2 linked regions of the Homo sapiens genome follow. The protein of the gene in region 1 binds, or shares a complex with, the protein of each later gene. Each region holds a gene or a part of one and is shown on either strand. Other genes may lie near its edges. The genes, in order: OSGEP and TPRKB.

Region 1 (15,808 bases):
AGATAGTGTCCAGGCTCTGCACCCTGTTTCCCAGTTCAGACATTTCGAATGCCTCTCATGTCCTCCCCAGAGCAAGACAATGTGGCCAGCATCTTGGCCCCCAACCAGGAGTTGGAGGAACTGCAATCTGGTGGAGACATACCCCGAGCCAGCCTCTGTTCACCAACTGCTTACAAGGATGAGGACACTGGACCCTGCTACGAGTTCTATGCCAACTCCGTAGTCCTGGGATGGCTCCATACAGCTTGGTAAGACCCAGGCCCCACAGTGAACTCCTGAAGGTAGGATAACATCTGCCTGTGGGCTACCACCACCCTTCATGTAGCTCTGGGACTGCCCTCCAGGTCCATTAGCTGTCCTCCTGGTTGCAGACGCGCTGGCTAGCAAGGGGTCTTGGCATTTCAGTTATGTATGTGCTGTCCCAGCCAAGAAATAGTGCCACGTCCACCTCGAGAGGAAACCCACACCCAGCCACACTCCCAAGATGATCTGGAGAATTCTGGGGCCAAAATCGGCAAGGCCCCAGTGCACTTCAGCTGGGTCATAGGAGTCATGGTAATGGATTGGCGCTCATGGTTCCCTAAGTCTGGGGATCTAGGCAGGCGAGAACTCTTTGCTCCAGGGGAGTTTTTGGGAGGTACCTCTGAAGAAGGGGGCAAGGGGTGGGACTCACACTGGAGACTGCAACCCCTCCCTTACCACCCCGCTCCCCAGATTTGCTGTATGCTCAATATCTGGGGCATCATTCTCTACCTGCAGCTGCCTTGGATCGCTGCTCAGGCAGGCACAGGTATGAGCTCAGAGCTCTCCTGGGCAGTAGGAAGGGATGTGCATGTATGAATAAATTCCCATCCTCACCCCAGGGCTCACATGGCTCATCATCCTGTTCTTGGCCTCAGTCATACTGTCACTGGATTGTCTATCTCAGCCATCTCCAGCAACGGCAAAATCAAGGCTGGTGAGTCTGTAGTGACTCCCGCTCCTCCCTTCATGTTTCCCCATCCCTCATATCTGTTAATGAATTGTATGGTGTTCTTCGATGATCACATTTGGTCATTTCCTCACTCCCCCAACCCCTGCCACACAAACATTTTCATTTCCCCTTTTGGTACTGGTGGTACCTAGATAGCCCTACTGCTTTGGGATGGGGTTTTCTTCCCATGAAGAAATGTGTATCCTCAATCTCATTTCTAGGCTCCTGTATGATTCAACGTGCTTCCGAAAATAGGACTGACATGGGTGTGCAGAATGGGAGCCGCCTGGGCGCAAAGTGCCAGTATGGCTGGGATTTCAGCAGTTGTCGAGAGCAAGGGTCCTGCCTCTGTGGGCTCTCTAATCACTATGAGGTGAGTGAACCAGAGCGGAAGTGTAGAGAGAGAAACCTTGCCCATTGCCTGGCATAGCATAGATGTTTAAGTTGATTAATTTGGGGCAAAACCTTCAAAGATGCAGATAAATTTTAATAAGTCTGGGAAAACTAGGTGAAAATACGGGTGGAATGCATTACTTTGGAAAGGCATTGATTTTTGCCTCTGTCTGCCCTTTTCCTCAGACCATGAACATGGTGTCTGCCTTTAGCCCTCTGATGTCTGCTGGAATCTTGAGAGCCATTCTGTTCTGTACCCTTTCCTGCTTTGTTTCAGCCCCTAATATCTTCCAGGCTAGTTGAGATCTTAGCAAGAGGCTTGCAAGAGAAAGGAAAGAATGTTAGTAGACACGGTCATCCCAAGTGTATAATTTTTGAGGAGGGGCAAAAGACGGCTCAGTTCTCAGCAACTGGGAGTTAGAAGGTAACTTTGGGAGATGGAGATGACTGTGGCTGGCTAATGTTTAAAGAGATAATCCAAGCCCACATAGCAACATTCAAAGTCTGCCTGTAAATCAAGGGAAAGTATGGGGAAGGTGTCACTCTTTTTTTTTTTTTGAGACACAGTCTCACTTTGTCACCCAGGCTGGAGTGCAATGGCATGGTCTCGGCTCACTGCAACCTCCGCCTCCCAGGTTCAAGTGATTCTCTCGCCTCAGCCTCCCAAGTACAGGCACGTGCCACCACATCCAGTTAATTTTTATATTTTTAGTAGAGATGGGGTTTCACTATGTTGGCCAGGTTGTTCTCGAACTCCTGACCTTGTGATTCACCCGCCTTAGCCTTCCAAAGTGCTGGGATTACAGGCGTGAGCCCCCAGGCCTGGCCCGGTGTCACTCATCTATCTACCTCCCCACTCTCAGTTTTTCCCATCCCTCATTCCCAGGGATCTTACCACCCCCTACTCCCTCTACTCCTATCCTTTCTGCCTCTGACCCCTAAACTCCCTTGACTTCTGTCTATGCTTCCCACTCTCCTGCCTCTTTAGAGGGAGAGGGCTCTCATTCTCCTACTTCCTGGGACCCTCCCCTATTGATCACCAAGACCTCTTGCAGCAGCTGTGCCAGGATAAACCATACACAATCACTGGCTTTTTTGGGGGGAAAGGCCATGGCAAGAACCACGAGCCTCTGTGGGGCTATCTGCTCACCTTCCTCACTGCTGTAGGTTTCATCCTTATCGGTGACTACTCCCCACCCCACCCTCCACACTGGGCTCTATTAATCACCATTCCTCTCAGGCCCTTCCCAGCCCTACCTCTGGCTTCTAGGAGCTGATCCTAAAACCTCTTTTCTATCTCTCTTTTCCTGAAAGTGGACGAAAAATGTCTCCTAACCTTGCACTGCTAGGGGTGGTATGTGTGTGGGGGTGGAGTGAGGAGTAAGAAGGGAATAGAGAGAATGGAGAAAACCATAAAATGATGTCCTGGACTTCTAGACCTGCATCTTATGACACTAGTGTGGAGACTCACTCCTGACCTTTCATCTCCCCCAAAGCCGAGCTGAGTATCATTGCCCCCACCATCGCCAACTTCCTCCTCTGTTCCTGTGCCCTCAACTTTGGCTGTCTCTACGCCTCCCTTACCTGGTTGTCTGGTTAGTGTGGGCAGGTGTTCAGGTAAGCTCTAGGGCTGGAAAGACCTGGGGAGTTGGGAGAGCATCCTTGCGGTACATGAGTGGGTGGTGCTGGGGCTAAGACAAGGGCTTACATTTGCTGTCCCCTGCAGGCTGGCGCCTTTCCTTCTGCAGGTAAAGTCCCTGGGTCTCTCTCCTGGGCTCTCTGCTCTGCCTGCTCATCACATTCCTCCTCACATGGCGGGCAACACTGATTACTGTGTTGCTTACCCTTCTGCTGTTATATGATCTACAAAACCTGGTGAGTGAGTAGGCGGGTGTGCAGGGAGTCAGGAAGTGAGTTACAACAGGAGGCTGGCCCCTAGAAGAAGCCCAGAACTACGAACAGTGTTTCCTCTTCTACCTCACCATTGATGCACCACCCCTTTCTCTGCACAGTTGTGAACTGGGGCTCTTCAGCCCAGGCAGACACCTACCAAATGGCGCTGTCCTACTCAGTGAGCCTCACCAATGTGTAAGATCACATTAAGAACTTCCAGTCAGGAAGTCTGTAGATGAGAGATTGAAAACGGTGGCCTATGGACGGAATGTTGCCTGGAAATGAGTTTTTTGATTGCACAGCATTTACAATTTTTAAAATAAACTACCAACGTTTAAGATCCAGGCATCTGCTAATCCTGGGCCTCCAACCCACATGACACAGTTAGCTGGGGCTGAGTAGCTCCTGTCCCATGGGACAAGGCAGGTGCTCTCCAGTTTGCCACAGTTCCCACTTGGTCCACTTTATTCTTTAATACTACATGACTGGTTCTTGCAAACTTTTGGCTTTTTTGGGAAAGGCCATGGCAAGAACCATGAACCTCTGCAGGGTTATCTGCTCAGACACAGAAGGAAACTAGCTTCCTGAAATCTGGGCGGGGTAGTGGAGAAAAAGGAAGCCTTCTTGTCACCTCTCATCCAACATACCATATCCCCTTCTTTCCTCATTGCTTCTCCTTTCAGGTCTCATGTTTGAACCAACTGAAGTCCAATGTGCTGGTCTTGGGATATAAGCAAAATTGGGAGAAAGGGCCTGTATCTGCCATGGAGTACTACATAGGCATTCTAGTGCGAATGTGAGATAGAGAAGGGTAAGATGGACATAGAAATGGTCAGGAACTAGAAAGAAGAGGAAATATAATCGTGGTGAAGCCCTTGTTCCCAACAGCTGCCCAGCAGTGCCTGTGTCCCCAGGAAAGAGACCCCCACCCCTTCATCTCTTCCTCCTATATCTCTTTTTCTCTCCTCTCCATAAAGTGATGACTTTGACTACAACTATGGCATAGGCCTCATAAGGATGCCAGGAGGGTTAAGCCCGGCTACTCAACACCAAGCTCAAGGTGAGTGAAAAGAGGTGGGCCTAAGAGAAGGATGTGGTGTGGGAGGTATAGAAATTGGCTCTCAAAGACAGTCTGGGAGGCAAATGAACTCATCTAGAGTTACCAAGACCTAAGACTGAATAGAATTGGGTACCAGGATGCGAGAGAAATGAATTTTGCTTGAGCTTTAGTTCTCCTGAAATTTTCAGGGTGGGGGAAAACTTTAAAGGTATCTTCTAAATTCAGGTGGGAGAAATTTGGATCAAAAGATACAACATAGCAGGGTAAGCTGGAGTGTGGTCAGGAAGGGCTATGGCCCAATTCTAGAGAAGGGTTTCTGGCACTACCCCAATTCTAATAATATTACACATCTTATCAGTTAAATTTTGGGCATCCTTAGCAAAAAGATAACATTATTTTGTGTTATACCCCCACTTTTCCCAGTACACCCAGCATATTTGGATGTCATAGGGATGGATACTTAGCAGGCAGGAGACCAATTCTAAAACATGTCCTGTTTTTAGGAATAACAGAGTTGTAGAGCGGGTTAGAGAAGCAGACACCAAGGAAAATAAAAAGGAAATGCGGTTAGTCAATGCGGAGAGAAGCCACATGACGTTTCTCTAGGATAGCAATAATTCTCATAGGGGAGGAGAGGTATTATACTGAATTAGGAGCAACTGCTCAGCTGGAAAGGAGTTTGTCTCATTCTTTTCTTCTCTTTTCTCGGGCAGCATCCTTATTCCAGCAGCCTCAATGTTCCAATCCAAGCAAGGCCGGAGGGCAGTGGACGTGTACTGGCTCGGTGATGATGAAGGTAGGGACTCCATGGCTCCCCAGGAAGTCCCAAGTTCTCCAAGTTCCAGGGAGAATAGGAGAGGGAAGATAGTGACATATAAACCAGAAAGGACTAGAAAATGAACTCTGCATTTACCAAGTACCCAATACTCTCCTCCCACCTCAGAGGACAACTGTGGTGTTTAAAGGCCAACAGAAAAGCCCGTGTTGCTGGAGCAGCGCAAACAAGGAATTGAGTAGCAGATCAAAGTGGTAGGCAGGGAAGGGCAGAGTGGATCACAGAGGGTCTCACAGGCCTTTAAATAGACTGGCCAGCCGCCCTGTCCGGGAGGGAGGTGGGGGGCGCCTCTGCCTGGCCGCCCCTTCTGGGAAGTGAGGAGCCCCTCTGCCCGGCCGCCACCCGGTCTGGGAGGTGTACCCAACAGCTCATTGAGAACGGGCCATGATGACGATGGCGGTTTTGTCAAATAGAAAAGTGGGAAATGTGGGGAAAAGATAGAGAAATCGGATTGTTGCTGTGTCTGTGTAGAAAGAAGTAGACATGGGAGACTCCATTTTGTTCTGTACTAAGAAAAATTCTTCTGCCTTGGGATGCTGTTAATCTATAACCTTACCCCCAACCCCGTGCTCTCTGAAACATGTGCTGTGTCCACTCAGGGTTAAATGGATTAAGGGCGGTGCAAGATGTGTTTTGTTAAACAGATGCTTGAAGGCAGCATGCTGGTTAAGAGTCATCACCACTCCCTAATCTCAAGTACCCAGGGGCACAAACACTGCGGAAGGCGGCAGGGCCCTCTGCCTAGGAAAACCAGAGACCTTTGTTCACATGTTTATCTGCTGACCTTCCCTCCACTATTGTCCTATGACCCTGCCAAATCCCCCTCTCCGAGAAACACCCAAGAATGATCAATAAATACTAAAAAAAAATAAATAAAAAGACTCTGGTTTTTCTTTTGATGTAAGAAAGCACTGAAGGTTTTGAGCAGAAGAGTAACATGATCTGGCTTCCACGCTAACACTATTCACTCTGGCTGCTATGTGGAGAATTGACTCTAAGTTGGCAATGGGGAAAGGAGAAGGAGCAGCTACTGCAATAATCTTGAAGACACATAATTCTGGCTTGATCTACAGTGGCAGCAGTGGAAGTGAGGAGAAATGGAATTCTGGATGTATTTTGAAGGTAGAGCCAAGAGGATTTGATTAATTGGAGAAGAAAGAAAACTGACAAAGATACTTTGACATGAACAACTAGAATGGAGTTGTCGTTGACAGAAATAAGAAAGACTACAGGACTAAGTTGGGGAAAGAATAAGTGCAATTTTGAATATGTTAAATTTGAGACGCCTATTAAGCATCCAAGTGGAGGTGCCAATGAGCAGCTAGGTATTTGGGATAGAAGTCCAGGTTGGAACTATAACTGGGAGTAACCCCCATCAAAATGATTTTAATGTATACAACTAGATGAAGTCACTACAGGTGTATGTGTAAAGAGAGCAGTCTGAGGACTAAACTCTGTGGAGATGAGGAGAAACTAGCAAAGGAGATTAAGAAAGGGCAGTCAGTAAGCTAGGAGGCAGACCAGAGAATGCATCCTAAAGCCAAGTAAGGAAACTTTTCAAAGAGGGAGTGTCAAATGCTGCTGATAGCTTCTGAGGATGAAGAATACGCCATTAGATTTAGCTATGTGCAGGTCATCAGTGACTGTGATAAGAATAGTTTTGGTGGAGATTTAATAGGGAACTGGTGGAGAGAAATTGAAGACAAGTCTTTCTAAGTTTTGCTGTAAAGTGGAACAGAAAAATGGGAAGCAGCTGGAAGGGCAAATGGGGACAAGCAGGCATTATTTGTAAAATGAGGAAAACAGTGGCATATTTGTGGACGGCAGGATTCAGGAGAGAAGGAAATACTGACTCTCCAGGAAAAGAGGGAGAATTATCCCTTTTTTTGAGAAAGAGTCTTGCTCTGTCACTCAGGCTGGCATGCAGTGGCACAATCTTGGCTCACTGCAACCTCCGCCTCCTGGGTTCAAGCGATTCTCGTGCCCAAGTAGTTGGGATTACAGGCATGCAACATCATGCCAGCTGATTTTTTGTATTTTTAGTAGAGGGGTTTCACCATTGCTGGTCAGGCTGGTCTTGAACTCCTGGCCTCAAGTGATCCACCCGCCTTGGCCTCCCAGTGCTGGGATTACAGGGGTGAGCCACTGCAACCAGCCCTGACTTCTAATCAGTAAAATATCCTCCTATCGACGGTGACAATCCAGTGTCCTCTGAGAAGCAAAATCAGCTCTGGTTGAGAACCACTGGTTTATGGTAACAGGAGGAAGGCAGAGTACATGGGTACAGATACTGGAAGATGGTTAGTTTCAGGGGCAAAAGCTTGTAAATGTATACTGATTGTTTCTATTTTCTTACTGAAATAGGAACTAAGGTAAGAGTCAGAATAGGGGGAGATGTTAAGAGATTTGAGGGGTCAGAAGGTATGAAACAGTCACTAGAAAAGAGGGCAAGTGAAAGGACTAGAGAGATGGCATATTTCTGGGTGGCATAAAGGACCCATTTTAGTGTCATGGTCGTAAGTTTGAAGTAAGATCAGTCAGCATGGCTATTTTTTACTAGCCCTTTCAGCTGCATGGGTCTAAAGTAGGTGATGAGTTGAATATGACAAAAGCAAAAGAGGGGAAGGGAAATGAGGTGGATTATGGGAATTTAGCTGAAGGAGGGAAATAAAAATACGTGGGGGATAAAATCTGCAGAAAGGAAGTATGATCAATGGACCGTAGGTCCTGGTGAAGGGATGAACTGTTGGATTTAGCATACTAAAGAAAATGAACTGGAAGAACAGGAGGTGGTGGTAGTCGAGAGTGGGACGTCTGAAACTGAGATGTGGAGGATCTGCAGCTCCAGAACATGACCAAGGAAATAAGTGGCTGAAGCGGGTGTTAGTATGATCTACCTGAATACTGAAATAAGATTTATGACAAACGTGGTGTTCGTATGGTAGTTTCTTTCAAAGCAGAAGGGTACTAGGGATGAGGGATAATGGTCTGGAAACAGTATGAGGACACGTGCACCACCTCCAGGCCCAGTGGGACACTGGGTGTGGAAGGGAAAATGCCACCACTACTGAGGTGGTAGGAGAAGCAGAGTCCTCATAAGAAACCAAGTCTGAAGAGCATAAATGTGAAGGGAACGTTCAGAGAAGAGGTTGAGGACACAGAGAATTTGACAAATGACTGGCCATCAGTTCCAGAGGGCACAGTGGAAGAGCTTCTAGAGTTGGAAAAGGTAGGTAGATGGAGACAAAACAGAGTGGAGATACATGGTTATTAAGTGTAAAAGATGAGATGACTCAGTAGTTTAGGACTAATTGTGATGATTGATATCAACATCAATAAGATTAAGGGTATGAGATTCGTTCTGTTGTTTGTGGTACGGAGGGATGTGCATCTGCGGGCATTCCTCAAGCCTGCCGATGGATGTGCATGTAGGAGAAAGTATACGGAGTAGAGGCAGTTTTAGAGTTACAAGTTAGACCAATCTCCAGGCTGTTTGTTTGTTTGTTTTTAAGAGACAAGGTTTTGTTCTGTCACTCAGGCTGGAATGCAGTGGCTCAATCACAGCTCACTGCAACCTCAAACTCCTGGGCTCAAGCTATCTTCCCGCCTCAGCCTCCCTTGGAGCTGGGACTACAGATGTGCGCCACCATGCCCAGATAATTTTTACATTTTTCAAATAGATGGTGTCTTGCTATTTGCCCAGGCTGGGCTCAAACTCCTGGGCTCAAGGGATCCTCCTGACTTGGCCTCCCACAGCACTGGGATAACAGGTGTGAGCCTCCAGGCTATTTTGAGAGAAGTCTTGCACACCTACTTCAAAGAATTTAAATGAGAGAATGAATGTAAAGCAGTTAGCACGGGACCCGATGCTATAATAATAGTTATGATACTACTATTGTTGCCAGGCACAATGGCATCCTTACTCAGGAGGCTGAGGTGGTAAGACTGCTTGAGCCCAGTTCGAGACCAGCCTGGGAAACACAGCAAGATTCCGTTTCTTAAAAAAAAAAAAAAAGATACCTCATTCTTGGTTCCACAGCAGCAAGCTCCAACAAGAATTTATCCAGCACCAAATCTACATTGGTCCTGAACAACACAATCCAATCACCAACATACAAAACCAAAAAACCAAAAATATTTTATTGCTGAGTCATCCTGGGGTTCCATAAAGGACCCCAAGCCTTGCTTGGAGTCTATAGCTTTGCTAGGACTCCCATGACATCAGGATAGAGATTGAGGCACGGGGTCCTTTGGGTTCCGATTAAGGAACTATCTACTCTGATTCTGTTGATCTTATTAGTCCCTCCAGGTCACCTCTACTTCATCTGTCCGATACCTGTGGAAAAACAGAAGAAACATGGTGGAGAGCGAGCCCTTAACATCCTTCATTCTTCTCTGCCCTCATGTTCCTGGACTCTTCCCTGCTGTTTTTGTCTATGTCCCAATAATCTACCCTCACCAAGAGGTGAATCACTCACCTCTGTGTAACCCCAGAATCACTGAGTGGGGTCCTGTGTCCAGCCCGAAACATCTCCCAGCCAGCCTGGGCTATCATCGCTCCATTGTCAATACAGAATCTGGGATGCAAGAGAGATGAAAATTGGGATCTAAGGGTGGAAAATCACTATAACAGGAGAAGTAAAAAAGAAACCAAAGGGAAAGTGTCTTTACCTCTCATCTGTAGCAAAAAGCCGGGCTCCACGTTCCTGGCACATTGTTGCCATCATCTCCTGTAGCCTCACATTACCTACAAAGAGGCAGGGAACAGGATTAGCTTAGTTTTAGCCATCTCTTCATGGTCCAGCAGAACACGTCATGTGCACTCACTTAGAACAATGACATAGGGGATTAGGGGCAAGGATTGGGAAGCCTACTCCAAACGCTTAATGATTTAGAGTACCAGGAGGAAGACGCATAGTGTTAAGAATAGGAAAGAGGAACACTTTTCAATAATACATACACCCCACTCCTCCCACAATGAGGGCCTCCTGGGAGCCACAATGTGCCATGGCTCGCTCTGTGATCTCTACCAGCATTGCAAACACAGTTTCCTGTCAGGGACAGATAAGGAGAAAATATTAGAGGGGCATCCCAGATTAGTTCTGCTCTACAATATAAAACCTTCAGCCCCAACTTTCTGTCCCAGTTTTTTACTGCATTACCTGCAGGGAGAAACACAGATCCTCAGGAGTACACTCGCCTGTGGCCAGCATCCGATGGGCTACATCCTACAATTAAAGGGAAAAACAAAAGAATCAACAAATCATGGTTTTGGGATTACACGAGAGCAAAAATTAATGCATTCGGAGGGTCATCATGTTTCACCACAATTCAAGTTACCAGCACATCCTGTACCACATTCCCTTCACTGGCATCATGGCATAGAATGAGCAGCTTTCATTTAAGATGCAATCATTACTTTTTGAATACTTGTCCTGACATCTCTCACCCCTTACTTATCCTGCTTAATTTTTCACCTGTACTCATCATCATCTGGCACTTCATTATTTTCCTCTTTCTTATCTCCCCCGCCCCCCATTTAGAATCTAAGCTCCATGTAGACAGGGATTTTTGTTTTGCTCCATGCTGCATCTCTACTATCTAGAACAGCATGTGGCACACAGAGATATTCAATGAATACCTTCTAAATGAATTTACCCAGCACATGATATGGACCAGTACTGTGCTACATGAATATACTGAGCTATACGAAATATAATCGTAAGTAAAACAGATATGCTTCATTTAAAAAGCATGAAAGTGCCCGTCTCATCACCTCTCACACTCACCTCAATGAAAGACAGGATCCCTGAGAATGAGACGTCCATCCCCTTTACAGTGTATGGCAGCTCAACTAGCTTCTTGCCTCTATGTGGGAATAAGCGTACGAGGCACTAAGCCTACAGTCAGCTGGCTTCTCACCCTCCAAAGCCCGTCCCAAATTTTGTTAATATATACCGTATATGGGGAAATCCCTGAAGCCCCAGCAGCCAGCCTGCTTCCACCTTATGTCCCCTTACCGCTTTGCCATCTGTTCAATGTTGTATCCTGGACTTGGGTCGTTAGAAATCTAGCAGAAGAAAAAAATAAGGAAGGAGGGAATGGAAGAGGATGAAATCAGATATGCAGGAAGCATAAGAAGCTCATTTACTATTTCCTCCCTCCACCTCCATGGCTTCCCAAAAATTCACCCACATTTTATGTTCTCTGCAGCCCCACTGGCTTACCTTCAGCACTCGAGCAAAACGATCCAGACAATTACCCACTGCAATATCGATGGTTTCCCCAAAGATACGGTAACGATGTTCCGAGTATGCAATCACCTAAGGGTGATGAGGAAGTCCATGAAACCCCAAGTCTGTAAAGAGGATTATTTGGCTTTGGGAGAAAAACATAGCAGAGGATCAACATGACCACCAGGGCTTCCAATAAGAAGTGGAAGAAAGGTGTTTCCCAAATGGTGAATGGGTAGTTTTTACAGCTCTGATTTGAGAAGAAATCTGTATACCCTGAGGATTCCAGGAACAGATTCCTAGACAGTGTAGGTTCAGGCAGAAATAAATTGTCATTTCAAATACATTGGTTTTCCGGCTTAGAAGTTCCTAATATATCCCTTAAATGCAGTCTTGATAGTAGGTAACCGGCTTTTCTGCTTGGAGGCAGAGAACATGAATCCTTCTAAATTATGACACAGTGGCAGTGGTAATTTTTTTTTGAGACAGGGTCTCGCTCTGTCTCCCAGGCTGGAGTGGAGTGGTGTGATCATAGCTCACTGTAGCCTCCACCTCCTAGGCTCAAAGGATCCTCCCACCTCAGCTTCCTGAGTAGCTGGGCTACCATGTGTGGCTTATTTTTATATTTTTGTAGAGATGGGGGTCTCACTATGTTGCCCAGCCTGGTCTCAAACTCCTGGTCTCAAGCAATCTACCTGCCTCAGCCTCTCAAAGTGCTGGGATTATAGGTGTGAACCACCGTATGCAGCTGGGCAGTGGTATTTAGAACCAAGAAGCAGAGCTGAAGAACTCAAAAATCTCATATGGAGTCAGACTAATGGCCCAGCCAAGTCAGCAATGGCAATTCACTTAAGGCCATTTTTCTTTTCTTTTTTTTTTTTTTCTGAGACAGAGTCTTGTTCTGTCGCCTAGGCTGGAGTGCAATGGCGTGATCTCAGCTCACTGCAACCTCTGCCTCCCAGGTTCAAGCAATTCTCCTGCCTCAGCCTCCCAAGCAGCTGGAATTACAGGCACCCACCACCACTTTTTTGTATTAAGGCCGTTCTTCATATGTGACCAACTTTTAGCACAGAGAATATCTGTCCCTTACTGACACATATTCTGCAGACTTATAACACCGAGGGCTTCCTACGAACCTTAAGAAGTCCCTTTCCCTTCCCAGTGCTGTTAGGGATTTCTTCCCTTTCTGATACAGATCTTAATCTGCTGTCAAAAAGACAGTAACAAAGGCGAAGGAAAAATCCTGCCTTTCTGCTTCTGCTATCCACTCCTCTCCACCTAATCACCCTCCCTGTTTCTTACACCTAAGCAAACATTAAAAGAGAAGAGGAAGACAAAACCGTCACTGCTCCTTTCATCAACTCTTGTAGCCTCCATTATACTTTCCACAACCCAAGTCTCTGACCTTGTATGTCATCCTTCAGGCCTCAACCAACTACTTGCCCTCTACCTGCTGAAGTTTCTGCATCATTTTCATGGGAAACATGTGCCTCATCTTCTCGACACAACCCTTTCATGAGCTGGGGACAATGCTGAACTATTTCTAATGATAATCAAGTGTTCTGTTGGAAAAGAATCCAATCCCAACCTTAAAAAGGTCATATAAGGTAACCCAAACAACTTTAGCTTCACCTATAAATTTAAAATACCTTCTGGCCGGGCATGGTGGCTCACGCCTGTAATCCCAGCACTTAGGGAGGCCGAGGCAGGTGGATCACCTGAGGTCAGGAGTTCAAGACCAGCCTGACCAACAGGGTGAAATCCCGTCTCTACTAAAAACACAAAAAATTAGCCAGGTATGGTGGCGGGTGCCTGTAATCCCAGCTACTCGGGAGTAGAGAAGAATAGTTTGGACCCGGGAGGCAGAGGTTGCAATGAGCCAAGGTTGCATCATTGCACTCCAACCTGGACAATAAGAGCGAAACTCCATCTCAAATAAATAAATAAATAAATAAGATAAAATAAAATACCTTCTATAATTTACAAAGTATTTTTTAAAGTTATTTATATTTCTAAACTCTTAGAATAACAAAGTCTACATAATCATTCCCAGTAATATAAAAACAAAACATGTACTTGCCCCAAAATAATAAATCAGGTAGTGTCCTTTAGTTGTTTTTTTTTGTTTTTTGTTTGTTTGTTTGTTTGAGACGGAGTTTTGCTCTTGTTGCCCAGGCTGGAATGCAATGGTGCGATCTCGGTTCACCGCAACTTCCGCCTCCTGGGTTCAAGTGATTCTCCTGCCCAGCCTCCGGAGTTGCTAGGATTACAGGCACCTGCCACCACATCAAATTAATTTTTGTTATTTTTAGTACAGATGGGGTTTTGCCACGTTGGCCAGGCTGGGCTCAAACTCCTGACCTCAGATGATCCACCCGCCTCGACCTCCCAAAGTGCTGGAATTACAGGCATGAGTTGCCATACCCAGCAACTGTTAGTTTCAATTGCTAAGATTTATAGAAAAAATAAGCTTCAAAATAATGCAAGAGCTTTCAGATATTCATTATTTTGAAGATTTCAATCCTTTTCAATCCCATTCATTCCTTTCCTGAAGTAGAAATTCCTAATCTTTATAATCAGATATAAAGTCTGATAATGATAAGCCATCTAATGTTCTGATCATGCTGCCAAAATTTGCAATGTTACAAACTCTGTTGGGGGTTTTCTGGTCTACAGTATTTTAGGTTCAGATAAGTCCATCTTTGTTCCTGACATTCCCATGACTCAGATAGAACAAAGAAAATACTGGTTCAGTGCCTCAGAAATTGAGATGGAGTGGGTAGAGCCCTCTAAATACCTGCGTATTTCCTCCACTCACATACAACACGGTTGGGCTGGTGGCTCCAGTGATGAGGCGGCCCATCTCAATGTGGCCTATACAGTGGTTCACACCCACCAATGGCTTATTCCACAGTTGGGCCACAGTACGGGCCACAACAGCCACAGAAACCAGTGGGGCACCCATGCCAGGGCCTAGGGAGATAGAAATGGAAGTTATAATCCTAGAGATTGGAAAAAAACAATAGTGGGGGACATAAGGGATGTGAGGTGGGGTAGGGGTAGTGATGGTGGCAGAGGTAAGGTGTTGGCTATTTTGACCTAGCCAGGTTGCAGGTATATTCCTCCATCGTTGACCACTCTCCCAGCCATACCCTTGGTGTATGCAATGCAGTCGATATCCTGGGAGGTTAATCCAGACTCTGTTAGTGCCTCCTGCAGCAGGTCTAGGATAACAGCTCGGTGATGCCTGGCTGTATCACCTGGAAGGAATCCTAGAAAATGAACATAGGTCAGAGATCACAGGGATTTTCTGTAGCAAAGGTAGGTAGGAAGTTAAAGAAAGCAACAGGAGTTTTAGTGATGTAGTAAGAGTCCTTTCACTTTCCCCAAGCATCCTATCTTCCACATTTTCACATCTACTCTTTCCGGCTTCTATATAGGCTATTCAACTTTCAGAAATGCTCTTCTTCTTACCCTACTCAGCCTTCAGGTCTCAATGCAAGTAGTATCTACCTCATACCCTTTCGTGATCTTTTTTTTTTTTTTTTCTTTTGAGACAGTCTCAGCTCTGTCACCCAGGCTGGAGTGCAGTGGCACGATCTCGGCTCACTGCAACCTCCACCTCCTGAGTTCAAGAGATTCTTCTGCCTCAGCCTCCTGAGTAGCTGGGACTACAGGCGACACCACCACGCTCAGCTAACTTTTGTATTTTTAGTAGAGACGGGGTTTCACCATATTGGCCAGGCTGGTCTCGAACTCCTGACCTCGTGATCCGTCTGCCTCGGCCTCCCAAAGTGCTGGGATTACAGGCCTGAGCCACCGTGCCTGGCCTTTGGTGATCTTCTTTCTCTGTGACCCTACAGAACTCTATGCATGATGATGTCATTTATTTAACATAACAATTACAGCATTATAATTTTCTGTGGTTTGCTCAGCTTAATCATGAATATCTCAAAGCATTGAGTATTTTATTTATCTTTGTATTCCCAGTGCCCAAGTGCCCAGAGGAGTGAATGCTAAACATACATATATATTTCTAGTGAGTATCTGTCACAACATCACCTGTTCAGGGAGGCTTTTCAGATACATGCAAGTCAGCTGCCCTCTCCTATGTATGCAAGTGTTTGAGGGGAGAGTAGCAAGATATAATAGCTTATTTAAAATATCAATTAAAAGTTGTAATGTGTTTTGTACTTTTTTTTTTTTTGAGACAGAGTTTCACTCTTGATGCCCAGGCTGGAGTGCAATGGCACCATCTCGGCTCACTGCAACCTCTGTCTCCCGGGTTCACGCAATTCTCCTGCCTCAGCCTCCCAAGTAGCTGGGTTTACAGGCATGCGCCACCACGCCCAGTTAATTTTTTGTATTTTTTAGTGGAAACATGGTTTCTCCATGTTGGTCAGGCTGGTCTCGAACCCCGA
Region 2 (16,745 bases), on another chromosome or scaffold:
TCTCTGTTCTTACATATCCCAAATAAAATACCAGTGCTTACATGTGCCGTGTTGGTGTGCTGCACCCATTAACTCGTCATTTACATTAGGTATTTCTCCTAATGCTATCCCTCCCCCATCCCCCCACCTCATGACAGGCCCCGGTGAATGATGTTCCCCGCCGTGTGTCCAAGTGTTCTCATTGTTCAATTCCCACCTATGAGTGAGAACATGCAGTGTTTGGTTTTCTGTCCTTGTGATAGTTTGCTTAGAATGATGGTTTCCAGCTTCATCCATGTCCCTACAAAGGACATGAACTCATCAATTTTTATGGCTGCATAGTATTCCGTGGTGTATATGTGCCACATTTTCTTAATCCAGTCTATCATTGATGGACATTTGGGTTGTTACATATGTAACAAACCTGCACATTGTGCACGTGTACCCTAGAACTTAAAGTATAATAAAAATAAATAATAAATAAAATACCAGTGCTTTAATCCTTGCCTTGGGCTCTGCTTTCTAGAGGGCCTAGGTTAAGACACCCAGATATTTGTTTAAAAATCTGACAGTCATAAGTGTTTAATCATTCAGACATGTGTATGACAGCTGGAAGTACCACATCTCTCACTGATTTGACATTGAAGTCCTACAAATATTTATACCTTTTAAGAATATAGAAATGTCAGTTACATCCAACATAACAATTGATCAAGAATTACAAGTTTCATTTTCGAAGTTATTTTCACAAGACATGGGGATTGTGTTTGGAGTCTGGGTATCTTACCTGACCCATTTGTTCAGATAACATTTCCAAGGTTAGATTCATTTTAACACATGGTAACAGTTATGCATATTTATACAAGTCTATATATTGCAGAGAAGAATAAAGTTGATATTGTTTTGAAAGCTCTCATCTAACACCTTATCAAATTAGATCTTTTGAACTAATTTTATGGTACATAACCCTTGCAAGTCATAAGGGATCATTTTTACCTCTGAGATGACTTAAAAAATAGTCAAATAGTAAAATTCACCTCTTTTAGTGTACAGTTCTACAAATTTTGACAAATGCGTAGTTTTATAACCATCACCACCACCACCACAATCAAAATATACAACCATTCCATCATCCCCTAAAATTCCCTCATGGCATTTTGTAGCAATCCATTCTCACCAACCCCAGACTTTGGCAAATGCTGACCTATTTTCTGTCCCTATAGTTTTGCTTTTTCTAGAATGTTGTATAAATGGAATAACAGAGTATGTAGCCTTTCAAATGTGGCTTCTTTCATTTAGCATAATGCTTTTGAGCTTCCTCCATGTTGCTGAGTAGATCAACAGTTCATTCCCTTTTGTTGCTGAGTATGCTGTGGATATACCACAATTTGTTTTCCATCTACTAGTTGAAGGATATTTGGGTTATTTACCAATATTCGAATTTTGAACAAAGCTGCCATAAACATTTGCATAGAGATTTTTGGGTGAATTGTTTTTATTTCCCTTGTACTGGGATTGCTGTTGTGGGGTAAGTGTATATTTAATTTTATAAGGAACTGCCAAACTTTTGCAAAATGTCTGTATTACACAGCATCCCCGTGAATAAGCTATGAGAGCTCCAGTTGCTCACATCCTCACCAATACTTAGTGTTGTTAGTTTTTTCTAATTTTAGCTGTTCCAACAAAAAGATGTAGTGTCTCATGTTTCTTAAACAGCGTTAGAGAGATAATTGACATGCAATATGCTGTATATTTTTATAAGCATACAATTAGATTCACATGACATATACACATCCATGAAGCCATTACCATAATCAAGGTAGAACACATCTATTACTCCACAGTTCCCCCACACTCCTTTGTAATCCTCCCTTTGCATCCTAGAACCCCTACTCAAGCGACCACTGATCTGCTGTCACCATAGAGTAGTTTTACATAAACGGAATCATATAGTATGCACTCTTTTTATGTCTGGCTTCTTTGATTTGGCATAATTATTTTGAGATTCATCCATGTTGCTGTATATAGCAATAGCTGACTTCTTTTTATTGCTGAGTTGCAGTCATTGTATGGATGTGTGACACTTTGTTTATCCATTCACTCGAACATTTGGGTTGTGGGTTGTTTCCAGCTTTTAATAGTTAGAAACAAGCTGCTATGAACTGAGACAACTTTTTTTTTTTTTTTTTTGGAGATGGAGTCTTACTCTGTCACCCAGGCTGGGGTGCAGGGTGCAATTCTGGCTCACTGCAACCTCTGCCTGCTGGTTTCAAGCGATTCTCCTGCCTTAGCCTCCCGAGTAGCTGGGATTACAGGCGTGCGCCACCATGCCCAGCTAATTTTGTATTTTTAGTAGAGATGGGGTTTCACCATGTTAGCCAGGCTGATCTTGAACTCCTGACCTCAGGTGATCCACCTGCCTGGGCCTCCCAAAGTGCTGGGATTACAGGCATGAGCCACCATGCCCGGCCAAGACAATTTTTTTATTCCATGGGACTCTGCTTGATATGAGACAACAATTTTTATGTCTGTTTTCGAATCAACTTTATTGAGGCATAATTTGTAGTTTATAAAATATGCTCTTCTAGGCTGGGCATGGTGGCTCATGCCTGTAATCCCAGCACTTTGGGAGGCCAAGATGGGCGGATCACAAGGTCAGGAGTTCGAGACCAGCCTGCCAGCATGGTGAAGCCCCATCTCTACTAAAAATACAAAAATTAGCCTGGCGTGGTGGCGCACCTGTAATCCCAGCTACTCGGGAGGCTGAGGCAGGAAAATCGCTTGAACCTGGGAGGCGGAGGTTGCAGTGAGCCAAGATCGTGCCACCGCACTCCAGCCTGGGTGATAAAGCAAGACTCTGTTTCAGAAAAAAAAAAATTATATATATATATTTTTTAAAATATATTAAATATATATTATATATAATATACTCTTCTAAAGTATACCTAATTTGATGAATTGTAACAAATTCATACTTCCTTGTAACTGACACCACATCAAGATATAGAACATTGGCTTCACCCTAAAGATTCCCTTTGGGTCCTTTCCAGTCAGTGTCTCCCACTTCCCTATCCCAAGCAACCACTGATTTGCTTTCAGTCACTCCATAATAAATCTGTAATCTCTAGCATTTTGTAGAAATGAAATCATATGGTAATTTATTTTATTTTATTTATTTATTTTTGAGACAGAATCTTCCTCTGTCGCCAAGGCTGGAGTGCAGTGGCACAATCTTGGCTCACTGCAACCTCTGCCTCCCAGGTTGAAGCGATTCTCCTGTCTCAGCCTCCCGAGTAGCTGGGATTACCGATGCTTGCTACCACACCCGGCTAATTTTTGTACTTTTTGGTAGAGACAGGGTTTCACCATGTTGGACAGGCTGGTCTCGAACTCCTGACCTCAGGTGATCTTCCTGCCTCAGCCTCCCAAAGTGCTGGGATTACAGGCTTGAGCCACCGTTCCCAGCCTAGTAATTAATTTTAGATTGTCATTTTGCTGAGCACATTCTAAAGACTCATCCATGTTGCAAGTATTGTTGGAAGTATCTGCAGTTCATTCCTGTTCATTACTGAGTGGTATCTCACTGTATGAATTTGCCACAATGTGTTTATCAATGTATTGTTGGGCATTGGTTATTTCCAGTTTTTGGCTATTATGAGTAAAGTTGATATGAACATTCAAGAACAAGCTGCAGGACAATTCTCCAGGTCACCTTAGACTCGCCCAGTTCTTCCCTCTTTCTCACGTGTGTTCTCAACAATAACTGTAGAATGTGCTGGGAATGCAACATCCTGCGATAAAGAGGGACTGACAAGAACAGCTCACAGGCTCTCTCTGTTCCTGTCTGCCTCTGAGAAACAAGATGTCCATCAACACTTTTGCCCAGCGTGTCATGTGGTCCCCAGGGTATTAAATCCAGTGTGGGATGCTTTCTAGTGTCCCTCAGCTGCAGTGCAAGTGGGACACATGCCCCACTTGTGAGAATCCATCCACCCTCGGTAGCTTTCTTGAGCCTTGGGAGATTGGCTCACAATGAATTCCGGGCTTCTGTTGTGCCTCAGGGCCAATCTGTAAGTAATAAACCCACTTCATGTAACTTGTGTGTGGGCATTCCATCTTACCATCTCATTGGACTCAGGCAAGTTGATAACCAGTGCACAATGAGCCTGCTTCACAAAATTGACACAACAAACAGGGTTCAGTCTAACAGAACCATGTTTTCCTGGTGAAAGGAGGTGGTGATGTCAACCTGTGGGTGCAGAGGCTGGACTTGCAACTGGACATTTTATGGGAAAGGAGGGGTGATACGTGAGACATTAGGTCACGTGCAAACACACCCTGTGGATGTGACTGAGCTGGCTGAATGGGTGGAAGCAGAGAGAAAGTAAGGTGGAGCTGAAATGCCACACAGGATCCCTTGGTTGTTAGCCACTTATGTGATTGCTCATTTCCAGGGCTGATGATTGGGGACCCAAACATACCCTAAGGCACTTAAGAGAAAGAAGAGGGATGAGGTACTCACATGGTCCCTGAAGCATCTGAGAGGAACCCACATGCACAACGTGGCCCGTCACAGAAAGGGAGACTCAAGTCTAAAGGACCACAGTCTTAGACATGGAGAAAGGCCAAGGAAGTCACATGCATCCTGGTTGATGAATATATTTGATAAAGGGACATTGCAAACCCAAATGTCTTGGGCTGTATGGCACGGGTAGGAATGGGGCCCAAGGTCTCTGGATCCCCACCAGAGGCCAATGGCTCTATACTCCTATTAAGATAAAATGGGGCCAGGTGCAGTGGCTCATACCTATAATTCCAGTACTTTGTGGGGCCAAGGCAGGAGGATCCCTTGAGCCCAAGACTTAGAGACCAGCCAAAGCAACAAAGTGAGACCTCGTCTCTACAGAAAATTTAAAAATAATTAGGTGTGGTGGTGTGCTTCTGTAATCCCAGCTATGTGGGAGGCTGAGGCTGGAGGATTGTCTGAACCTGGGAGGTTGAGGCTGCACTCCAACATGGACAATGGAGAGAGATCCTGTCTCAAAAAAAAAATAAATAAATAAAATGGGGAAAGATGGAAATTCTGATTTCTTTCGAGTTCTTGGATACTGAAGGCCACATGACAGAATTTCCAGGTTCCTTTAGGGGAAAAATTAAGCTGGTGACACCAGGAAGTTTGGGGATGAACTCGGTGACACATAGTGTTTATCTGCTTGTGGTGCTTATCTGCTTGTGGGTGGAGGCCTTTGGGCCATTTCAGGTGTCAGTGACCATGGTTCCCACCACTGAGTGCTTTATAGGCATTGACATTTTGGTGGCTTGTGGCACAGAATGTCACTGCCACCAGAGGGGCTATGACCCCTAACAGCTAAGGATTTGAGCCATAACAGTGGGGCACATCCCCTCCCACCTACCACCATATCTTGCCACATTTTTACTGACTCATGGGCCATTGCCAACAGCCTAGCCATCTGGTCAGGGGAATGGCAGCAGTGATTGGACTATTAAAAGATTCCATGTGTGGGGACAAGGGCTATGGCAACAGCTTGCTGTTGGAAGGGACTCTATATGCCACTCATGTGGATGCTCTGACTACCACAGCTGCCCTTGAGAGGACTTATGTTTTTGGATACCCCATGGGACTTCACTCTGACCAAGGAAAATCCTCACTGCCCAAGCAACATGACAGTGGGCACACTCATGCAATACAGTGGGTTTTCCATGCACTCTGTCATCCACAGGCCAATGGAGCCATTGAATGATGGACCAGTCAACTCACAAAGCAACTGAATAAAGGACATCAGGACAGCCTGTTAGTGGGGTGGCACCTCAACCTGACTAGGGCAGTGTGGACACTAAGCACTGTTCTCCAATCAAGGGAAACACAGCACTGCACACATCTTGAAAAACGCTGAGCTTGATGTGGATAGAGGTGGACCAGGTGACTGCCTGATGAGGCTGCACCTGTGAAATTCCAATCTCAGTGTTCCCAACCATTGTCTTTTCTTTTTCCATTTAGAGTGCACATCCTGTAGGTGGCCGGTGGTTCAAGCTGCCAGAGCACCCGACAGGCCCCTCTGACTCTGATCTAGAGGTGATACGTCCCCCGGGTGCCTCTCTTCTATGAAATCCACAGGGATACAGGACAGGACCAAGGAGTATCAGGGTGCTAGGCTTAGTGGCACCAGGAACACCTGATCCTTCCATTCAGGTAGGTAACCTTATCAGACATGTCGAGTTTGTACAAGACAAACCTTCCCGGACTGGACGACTGAAGCCAAAAGGCCTGGGTCATGCAACAAGCGGAATGGGTACTCTCGGGACTGCAGCAGTCAGACTGGGACACTACACTCAGCTCAACCTCTATCACATAGGTAGGGAATACCCGAGGATGCAGGAAGTGTAAGGGGCAGGGCACTAACCTGTCAGTCTGCTTTTTCCACAAGGACGTGACTGCAGAGGCCTAGAAGCATAACGCGTTTGTTAGGCTCTCCCAAGCTGTGGCTACCATAGGAAAGTGCTGGATCTGTCATCCCAGACCCCATTATGTCACAGGCTACAGCAACCTTCTCGTCCTGCCAGTAGTAAACTCTACCAGTATTATAGTGGCACAGTGAATATCAACAGAACCTGAGCCCTGGCTTACTGAGTGAGGATCTAACATCTGCCACATGGGAGGGAGGTAGACTTAATTGGCCTAAGGTGGCAAAACATCATGACAACTAATAAGATCTTGGTGGGCTGGCACCTTTGACCTATTATGTTCTTACCTGGATCACTGGATCCTGGACTAGGTTGATGCTCCAGACAGACCTGATCAACCTGTTTGTGATGTAGTCCTCCTGGGCCTAGTAAAATGTATTCTGGCTATGGCTCAACAATGTTGTACTGACATTGTGTCTGTGAAGGTGTTACATCGATCTGATAAGACAAACTTCCGCCTCCAGATACTAGGAGGTTGGTGGGCATATGAAACGGACTAGCTTTGCTAAAGGGTATAATCTGGGTTAAGGGCATAGACTGCAGGACAGTTCTCCAGGTGGCCTTGGACCAATTTAGTTCTCTCTCCTTTCTCACTTGTGGTTCTCTAGGATAACTGTAGAATGTGCTGGGAATGTAGCATCCTGTGATAGAGAGAGACTAACCAGACCAGCCAGGGCCCTGTTCCAGTGTCTCCCAGAAATAGAATGTCCTTCATATATATATGTATATATATATATATATATTTTTTTTAATTTTAATTTTTATTTATTTATTTTTTTTTGAGAGGGAGTTTCACTCTTGTTGCCCAGGCTGGAGTGCAATGGCGCGATCTCAGCTCATGGCAACCTCTGCCTCCCCAGATCACGTGATTCTCCTGCCTCAGTCTCTTGAGTAGCTGGCATTACAGGCATGAGCCACCATGCCTGGCTAATTTTTTATTTTTTAGTAGAGACGGGGTTTCTCCACGTTGGTCAAGCTGGTCTCGAACTCCCGACTTCAGGTGATCTGCCTGCCTCGGCCTCCCAAAGTGTTGGGATTACAGGCGTGAGCCACCGCACCTGGCCGAATGTTCTTCATGTTTTAGCCCAGTGTGTCATGCCTCCCCACCTCTTCCCCCTGCCCCTGCCCCCTGCAATTAGGCTGTTGCATTGCCACAAAGAAATACCTGAGACTGGGTAATTTATATAGAAACGAGGTTAAATTGGCTCATGTTTCTGCAGGCTGTACAGGAAGCATAGTACCACCATCTGTTTGGCCTCTGAGGAGGCCCCAGGGAGCTTTTACTATTGGCAGAAGGAGAAGAGAGAGCAGGCACATCACATGGTGAGAACTGGACCAAGAGACTGTGTTGGAGGGTGCCACACACTTCTAAATAACCACATCTTCCTGGCACTCACTCACTATTGCAAAGACACCAAGCCATGAGAGATCCACTTCCATGACCCAAACACCTCCCATCAGGTCCCACCTCCAAAAATGGGGACAATTCAACATGAGATTTGGCAGGGACATATATTCAATCCATCCCTGGACCCCCAAATCTCATGTCCTTCTGACATTGCAAAACATAATCATGCCTTCCCAATCACCTACCAAAATTTTAACTTGTTCCAGCATTAAACTCAAAAGTCCAAAGTGTCACAGGAGACATGGCCCAGAAAAAGAACTAATCCCAGCTCCTTGGGAGGCCAAGGCGGGTGGATCACGAGGTCAGGTGATCCAGACCATCCTAGCTAACACGGTGAAACCCCGTCTCTACTAAAAATACAAAAAATTAGCGGGGCGTGGTGGCGGGTGCCTGTAGTCCCAGCTGCTCGGGAGGCTGAGGCAGGAGAATGGCTTGAACCGGGACGCGGAGGTTGCAGTGAGCCGAGATTGCACCACAGCACTCCAGCCTGAGTAACAGAGCAAGACTCTGTCTCAAAAACCAAAGAAATCTCCAGCAGCGGAAATGTATGTAGAACTCATTTTGGTCAGTACTTTTCCTTGTACAGGAAGAAACTGAGGTCGCCCGGTGCAACGCCCAACACAGGTTAAGACAAAGCCGAGACTCAAAACCAGACCCCAGCTTCCGGTCCCAGCCCATAGATTCTTCCATTTCCTTCGCCGGAAGTGATATACAGCCCCTGTTCTCCTTCGCGTCCGTTGACGGGACCCAGGTTGGGGAGGCGGAAGAATGGGCGGGACCATGGGCGGAAGCACCCCTCCTACCAGGACCCGGAAACAGATGGCCACCCCGAGCCGGCCTATCCGGAAACTGGCTCGAAGAAGACGGGGATTGGCCATCGCTTCCGGAAGTTGTGAGCTTTGTTTCGGAGCGGGAGCTCTTCCGAGACGCACTGGGGGCCGGATGGTGAGTTTTCCTTGCGCTCTAACGGGCAGGCTCGGGAGCGGGAGGGTCCGGGCAGTTTTAGTAGTGTCTTTGGGACAACGGCTGCGGTTGGTATTTCTCAAGCGGCAACGAGGCCAGCCCCTGGGAATGCAGCACGAGAATGATAGAGTCAGGCTGTCCCCTCAAGAAATAGTTTAGTGAGGAGACATGCAGCGGATAGGCGCAGGATTCTTCAGAGTTGTGATTGGGCCCAAAAAGGAGCTAGTCCTCAGACTAAAAAGAGCCGTAGTGCCGGGGTTCTGGGCGCTGTAGTAAATGGACTCCAAATGGAGTTGAAGGGAGGGAGGAGTGCGTCAGGCGGAGATGAAAGGAGAGAGGGAACTACCTGTCCGATAGGGCAGAATCGGGGAGAAAGGTTGGTGACTTGAGCTTAGAGAAGGCCATTGCGGCGGTAGCAGAAGAGGAGAGGCAGGGACCAGATCGTAGAGTGTGGAACACCGTGACACAAAGTTGGGGCTTTATCATAAGAGCAGCAGAATGACAAGATCTGATGTACATTTTGAAAGGATCACTGTAACTGCTGGTGACGACTGGATTATAGGAGGGCAGGAATTGTGAGAAACCACTCAGAAGGCTACTGCTGTAGATGAGCGATGTGACCTAGCGTATGGGAGAGAAGTGGACGAATCAAAAGTATATTTAGCAGGTGAAAATTCAGGACTTTACGGATTAGATATAGGATTTGAGTGACAGGTTGGGTCTCAACGATGATTCCAAGTTTCTGACCTGAGTGAGTAAATTACGCTAAACAAGAACAAACTATTTTGAAGTTTTCTAAGGGTTCTTCCCCCCACTCAGTGTTAAAAAGCACGTTTTTTTCCTTTCTTATTATGTGTACTCATGTTTTGTGTGCTTACTGTAGAAAATTCAGAACATACATAACAAAATATTTTCTTTTATATAAAGGACAATAAAAATCACCTCATAACCTCACTACCCAAGATGGTCATATTTTAGTGTTTCTTTCATGTATTTTAAAAAAATATGTGTATCTTTTTATATAATTGGGATCCTACTGATTATGTCTTTCTGTATCCATTTTTTCCACCTTAGCATGACTAATGATTGAACTGTGTGCCAGGATATCGTTCACAAATATATTTTTTTCTGTTTGTAACAGAAAAAGTCAAATTAATTCTAAATAAGAGATAACATTAACTTTTTGGTGTATTTTCTTTTTAATATTTGTTTAAAAGCCTTTTAAAAAACCCACATTTTGGCCAGTTTGTGTTTTGTTTTCCATTCAGATGTTTTTACTTACTTAATGTTATTTATTGCCGTTTTTACACACCGTCAAGACCACATGTTTTAATGGTTGTTAAATAACAACTAATCCCATCATTAGCTAGATAGGTTATTTGCAACTTTTTACTGTTAAAATAATGAGAGGAACATCTTATATAATTATTGGATTCCTAATGACTTCCATCAGAAAGAGTTCTAGAAATATAATCTGCCAGGTAAAAGGATAAAATGAGTCTCAAATTGCCCCACCAAAATATTTTATTAAGAATTTGATAGAAATTGTTTTAAAGAAATTTTTGCAATACATAGTTTTTCCATTCAAAGATATGGTCATGTCTTTCTGGTTATTCAAGTTGTCTTTTATGTTTCTTTTATGTCTTTATATATAATAACCTATCCTTTTCTTGTTAAGCTTATGTCCAAGAAAGGAGCGACATTGATTATTTAATAATTGTACCCTCTCTGCTTAATTTCCATGCGTGGAATGAATATCTTTGGGTCAAGTGGGATACTTTATCCTTTTTTTTTATTTTTATACTTTAAGTTCTAGGGTACATGTGCACAACGTGCAGGTTTGTTACATCTGTATACATGTGCCATGTTTGTATGCTGCACCCATTAACTCATCGTTTACATTAGGTATATCTCCTAATGCTATCCCTTCCCCCTATTCTTTTTTTTTTTTGAGACGGAGTTTCACTCTTGTTGCCCAGGCTGGGGTGCAATGGTATGATCTCGGCTCACTGCAACCTCTGCCTCCCAGGTTCAAGCGATTCTTCTGCCTCAGCCTCCTGAGTAGCTGGGATTACAGGCATGCGCCACCATGCCTGGCTAATTTTTTTGGCATTTTTAGTAGAGACGGGGTTTCTCCATGTTGGTCAGGCTGGTCTCGAACTCCCAACCTCAGGTGATCTGCTCGCCTCGGCCTCCCAGAGTGCTGAGATTACAGGCATGAGCCACTGCACCCAGCCTACTTTATTCTTTAAAATTATTTTCTTCCTTAATATTTATGTCTAGGCCTTCCTAAAATATAAATAAAATGATGAGATCAGGAAGTTAAAAAGACTAAGATAGAGTAAGACTTCATTAATACCGTAAGCAACCTCTGGTTTAAAAAATTCCTGACATTCTGCTCCTACTTGTCTGCTGGGGAAGCAGCCCTTCAACCATGCACCTGAGCCTGCCTCATCTGAACAAACAGCAACCAGCTGGGCCCCTTGGCGTTTCCCTGGGGATGACAACAGAACAACTCAGAAGGGTTAGGAAGACAACATCTCATGAGGATGCCAAATGGGCTTTGGCGATGGATTTTTCTAGTTTAACACTTTTATCAAGTTACTTTCAAAGTTTTTGAATATTTATTAAGAAATGAGTTCTGATGTTAACTTTTAAATGAAATCTTTTGGTCTTTTCATTTTGTGTGCAGTAGAATCCTGCTTATCTGTGAAATGCAGTTAACACATCAGCTGGACCTATTTCCCGAATGCAGGGTAACCCTTCTGTTATTTAAAGATGTAAAAAATGCGGGAGACTTGAGAAGAAAGGCCATGGAAGGCACCATCGATGGATCACTGATAAATCCTACAGTGGTAAATATAAATTTTAAGAATGAATGAGCCTGCTGGGTGCGGTGGCTCACGCCTGTAATGCCAGCACTTTAGGAGGCCGAGGCGGGTGGATCATCTGAGGTCAGGAGTTGAAGACCAGCCTGGCCAACATGGTGAAACCCTGTCTCAACTAAAAATACAAAAATTAGCTGGGCGTGGTGGCGGGCGCCTATAATCCCAGCTACTCGGGAGGCTGAGGCAGGAAAATCATTTGAACCCTGGAGGCAGAGGTTGCAGTGAGCCAAGATTGCGCCATTGCACTCCAGCCTGGGCGACGAGCAAAACTCTGTCTGGAAAAAAAAAATGGCCAGGCATGGTAGCTCACGCCTGTAATCCCAGCCCTTTGGGAGGCCGAGGCAGGCAGATCATGAGGTCAGGAGTTTGAGACCAGCCTGGCCAATATGGTGAAACCCTGTCTCTACTAAAAATACAAAAATTAGCTGAGCATGGTGGTGGGCACCTGTACTCAGGAGACTGAGGCAGGAGAATCGCTTGAGCCTGGGAGGCAGAGGTTGCAGTGAGCCGAGATTGTGCCACTGCACTCCAGCCTGGGCAACAGACCAAGAATCCGCCTCAAAAAAAAAAAAAAAAAAAAAGAATGAATGAGCCATACAGGGCATTTAAGTATACATTAATATTTGTGATGTTATAGGGTAGCCTAAAAATCTGTCACGGTTAGGGAAAAAATTCTTGTCCAAGTCAGATGCAGCCAACTTTGACTATAACAGTGAATAGAGGCAGAAGTGCCAGGTCCTGCCCTAGGAAATAGGAAAGGTTGTGGTCTGGGTCTAATATGGGAAATGCCTGGATCTCCAGCTTCTCATCTTTAAAATGGGGGTTCCTAACAAGACAGTCTGTAGAGGAGGAATAGTGTAGTGGTTAAGAGTACACACAGAGGCCAAGGTGGGTGGATTGCTTGAGGCCCGGAGTTTGAGACCAGCCTGGCCTACATAGTGAAACCGTGTCTCTACTAAAAATACAAAAAGTAGCTGGGTGTGGTGGTGTGTGCTGGTAGTCCCAGCTACTCGGGAGGCTGAGGCACAAGAATCATTTGAACCTGGGAGGCGGAGGTTACAGTGAATTGAGATTGAGCCACTGCATTCCAGCCTGGGCAATGGAGCGAGAGACTCTGTCTGTCTCCAAAAAAAAAAAAAAACAAAAAAACAGGGCACACGCAGTGCGATCATGTTACCGGGAATTAATCCCAGACCTACTACTTAGGCCTTTGAACAAGACATAACCAACCTTTATATAGTGCTTACTGCATTCCTAGCATTGTTCCAAGTGCTTTACGTATACTAACTTGCTTAATCTTCACAACAGCCTATGGAGTGAATACTGTTTCATCGGTCTCTAACAAATAAAATGCTAATGAACTTGCATAAGTTTCCTAGGTGATAGGTGACAGAGATGGGATTCAAACCCAGACATTCTTTGCCTCAATTTCCTCATCAATTACATACTACTACTACTGCTACTACTACTAATAATAGTGTCAATTTCATAGGGTAGTTTTGAGGATTAAAGAAAATATTACAAGTAAAATGTTTGCAATATGATCATGCCCATAATATTAGCCCTCAATTAATGTTATTTAAAAAAATTTTACTATTTGCATAAGTTCCTTGCAGCTTTAAAATTCTGTGATTTCCTGACTACCCAGGCCCTTGGGATAATAGTTGTTTTTTGTTTTTTTTTTTTTTGAGACAGTTTCACTCTTGTTGCCCAGGCTGGAGTGCAATGGCGCGATCTTGGCTCACGGCAACCTCTGCCTCCCGGGTTCAAGCAATTGTCCTGCCTCAGCCTCCTGAGTTGCTGGGATTACAGGTGCGTGCCACCACGCCTGACTAATTTTTGTATTTTTAGTAGAGAGGGTTTCGCCGTGTTGGCCAGGCTGGTCTTGAACCCTGACGTCAGGTGATCTACCCACCTTGGCCTCCCAAAGTGCTAGGATTACAGGTGTGAGCCACCGTGCCCAGCCGGGATAATAGTTTTGAAAATACAGACCGTAAGAATTGTGATGAAGTAAAACAGCTTGACACTGGAGTTAACCATGAGTTACCATGTGTTTTCAGGCACTGCAGATTCTCCATGTGTAATTAATTCTTTTTCCTTGCTTTGGTAGATTGTTGATCCATTTCAGATACTTGTGGCAGCAAACAAAGCAGTTCACCTCTACAAACTGGGAAAAATGAAGACAAGAACTCTATCTACTGAAATTATTTTCAACCTTTCCCCAAATAACAATGTAATGTGCACTTTCCTATTTCTGTTGACCGTGTCATAATAACATATGTGTTCCTCAGTGTTGGGTTGGAGGCTAAATTCCTGCAAGCCAGTGGTTAGTAATAAACCCAAATAATAGTGAAGAGAGCTCTGGACAGAGAGTTGAGGTTTAACCCTGCCTCTTACTAAGACAGTTTACATATGAGTAAACAAAAATTTAGCTAAATTAAGCGAGGTTAATTTTATCTGTTCTTACCATATAGGGTCAGGAAGACCCCTCAAGTATTTTTGCTTGAGAAGCTGACAGAAATCTAAATGATAAAACATTAGGCGTGGATATTTTGTGTGCTAGCCTGCATATCATTCTCTCTTCCCGTAAACTCCTTGAGGGTGGGATCCATGTCTTTTTCATATACCAGGAACTTGCTTGTACCTATAACAGTCCTTAACACAGCCTCACTCACACACCCAGTACATAGGTAGAGTTTGTGGTTTGAAATACTTATAGTAATGCTTTTTCAATGAAAGTTATCAAGCTAAAGACATCACACATGTAGCACATGAAAAAAATGACTGCAATTTTGCTGATGAAGTTTTAGTATTACTGCTGCTGTTAATAACAACCAGGTACTAATGTCATCTACAGGAAACCTGTAGCATAGGTTAAAATACAGATGATTGACAAGTTTATAAAATGCAGTTATCTCAGCATGGTAATAGAGATTCCCAGTACCTGGAATAAAATTTACTAATTATGGTTTCCTTGAGATCATTAGACATAATTCAGAAAACTCTTGAATTCAGTAAACATCTGTTGAACTTTTTCCCCGTTCCATTTACAGTTCTAGGGGCAGAAGAGGCAAATATGTTCCTGAGGAGAGGCAGATAAACAAGACAAGTTAAAATGCCCTAAGATAAATGATATAATGGGAAAATGAATTCAAATCTAGGGGTACAGCAATGAAGCCATTCATTTTGGAGGGAGGAGGGTGTGGTGGGGAGTGGCATCAGAACTGTGGACCCTGAAGCATGTGTTCAGCAGCCAAGCCATGAGGAGAAGGGACATGCGAGCAGAGGACAAAGCTTGAGCACAGGCAGAAGGGCATGAAATGTGACTGGATCCCCAGGCAGGCTGGACTGGCCAGAAGGCAGAAGCGCCTGGCTGGAGGGCCACTTGGCACCAGAGGGAGGAGGTGTTTTTGTGCAGCGCCAAGAGGCTGGGCTTGATTCCATAGGAACAAGGCGTACCTTTAAGCAGGGAGTGCTTTTGAGGAAGTGCCAATGGATGTTGGAAAGGAATCATTAAAGTGAAAAAGTAGGCAGTGAGAACTGTTAGGACATGAAAAATAAGAGCCTGACCAAGGAAGAAGGCAGATCAGGAAATGTTTCAGACGTAGGAAACAATGGTTAATGATCTTGTGTTTTTTTTTTCATTTTTTTTCTCTTAGATTTCAGAGGCTTTGAAAAAATTTGGTATCTCAGCAAATGACACTTCAATTCTAATTGTTTACATTGAAGAGGGAGAAAAACAAATAAATCAAGAATACCTAATATCTCAAGTAGAAGGTCATCAGGTTTCTCTGAAAAATCTTCCTGAAATAATGAATATTACAGAAGTCAAAAAGGTTTGCCAGTCCATATTTTTAGAAAGAGTGTGATAGATGAGCAATAATGCTGATGCCGTTTGCCTATTGATCACCAGAGCTCCTTGTTTTTTGAACTTTTGAGAAAGTTAATCTAATTTTAAAAATTACTTAAAAATTACAGATACAAAGAACTGGGAGGTGTGATGGTTTATGTAAAATATAATTACAAACTCAGCTGACATAACCATTCTCCACATTAAGAAAGAGAATACCTTTAAATATCAAACTTACATAGTATATTTAAAATGTAAAATAAATTTAGTATGCTTTTAAAATGGATAGAAATTTGGTTTTTATGTTCTTGAGAGTTACTCCCATAGCAGCAATTTAAAGGGGATACAAGTAATGAATTGCCCTCTACTTTGAATATTTTAATCACATTTGTTGTTTGTTATACCATGAACCCAATAATTGAATGAGGAATAATTTCACTTACACATGTTTGTATAATGACAATTAGTAGTGAATGACGATATCAGCAAGTCATAATTTGTCTTTCATTTTTACAGATATATAAACTCTCTTCACAAGAAGAAAGTATTGGGACATTATTGGATGCTATCATTTGTAGAATGTCAACAAAAGATGTTTTATGAAATGTCAGAAATATTAACAAAAATTCTCAGCATTAAAGAAAACATTGATTTTCCTTTCCTGACTATAAAACTAATTGTGCATTATAGAAAAGTTTAAATCACAGAATGGTATTAAAAAAAAAAAAAAAAGGCCAGGCACGGTGGCTCACGCCTGAAATCCCAGCAATTTGGGAGGCCAAGGCAGGTGGATCACCTGAGGTCAGGAGTTCAAGACCAGCCTGGCTAACATGGTGAAACCCCATCTCTACTAAAATACAAAAATTAGCTGGGCATGATGGCAGGTGCCTGTAATCCCAGCTATTCGGGAGGCTGAGACAGGAGAATCGCATGAACCTGGGAGGCACAGGTTGCAGTGAGCTGAGATCGTGCCATAGCACTCCAGCCTGGGCAGCTGAGCGAGACTCCGTCTCAAAAAAAAAAACCAAAAAAAAAAAAAACAAAAAAACCACTTGTAGTCCTACCTCGTTGTATTTTAAAAGATAATCAGTTACTATTACTTGTTATTGCCTTCTAGAGTTCTGTTTCTATTCAAATATATTTTATTTTTATATAATTAGAATAAAAATTGCAA

The links.
Region 2: OSGEP (region 1) and TPRKB share a complex: the UniProt entries of both Homo sapiens proteins name them as parts of the EKC/KEOPS complex.

The regions. Positions count from the first base shown.
Region 1 is NC_000014.9:20,437,790-20,453,597, forward strand, and holds the end of OSGEP (tRNA N6-adenosine threonylcarbamoyltransferase), read right to left. Parts: intron 14,660-15,808; coding exon 14,540-14,659; intron 14,361-14,539; coding exon 14,185-14,360; intron 11,478-14,184; coding exon 11,382-11,477; intron 11,225-11,381; coding exon 11,175-11,224; intron 11,023-11,174; coding exon 10,944-11,022; intron 10,383-10,943; coding exon 10,317-10,382; intron 10,206-10,316; coding exon 10,115-10,205; intron 9,902-10,114; coding exon 9,826-9,901; intron 9,732-9,825; coding exon 9,633-9,731; intron 9,491-9,632; coding exon 9,451-9,490; 3' UTR 8,612-9,450; downstream 1-8,611. UniProt on the Homo sapiens protein: Component of the EKC/KEOPS complex that is required for the formation of a threonylcarbamoyl group on adenosine at position 37 (t(6)A37) in tRNAs that read codons beginning with adenine.
Region 2 is NC_000002.12:73,729,372-73,746,116, reverse strand, and holds TPRKB (EKC/KEOPS complex subunit TPRKB), read left to right. Parts: upstream 1-8,771; 5' UTR 8,772-8,815; intron 8,816-8,855; exon of another isoform or gene 8,856-8,901; intron 8,902-9,360; exon of another isoform or gene 9,361-9,500; intron 9,501-11,525; 5' UTR 11,526-11,547; coding exon 11,548-11,688; intron 11,689-13,412; exon of another isoform or gene 13,413-13,416; coding exon of another isoform or gene 13,417-13,533; intron 13,534-13,831; coding exon 13,832-13,954; intron 13,955-15,380; coding exon 15,381-15,557; intron 15,558-16,087; coding exon 16,088-16,174; 3' UTR 16,175-16,244; downstream 16,245-16,745. UniProt on the Homo sapiens protein: Component of the EKC/KEOPS complex that is required for the formation of a threonylcarbamoyl group on adenosine at position 37 (t(6)A37) in tRNAs that read codons beginning with adenine.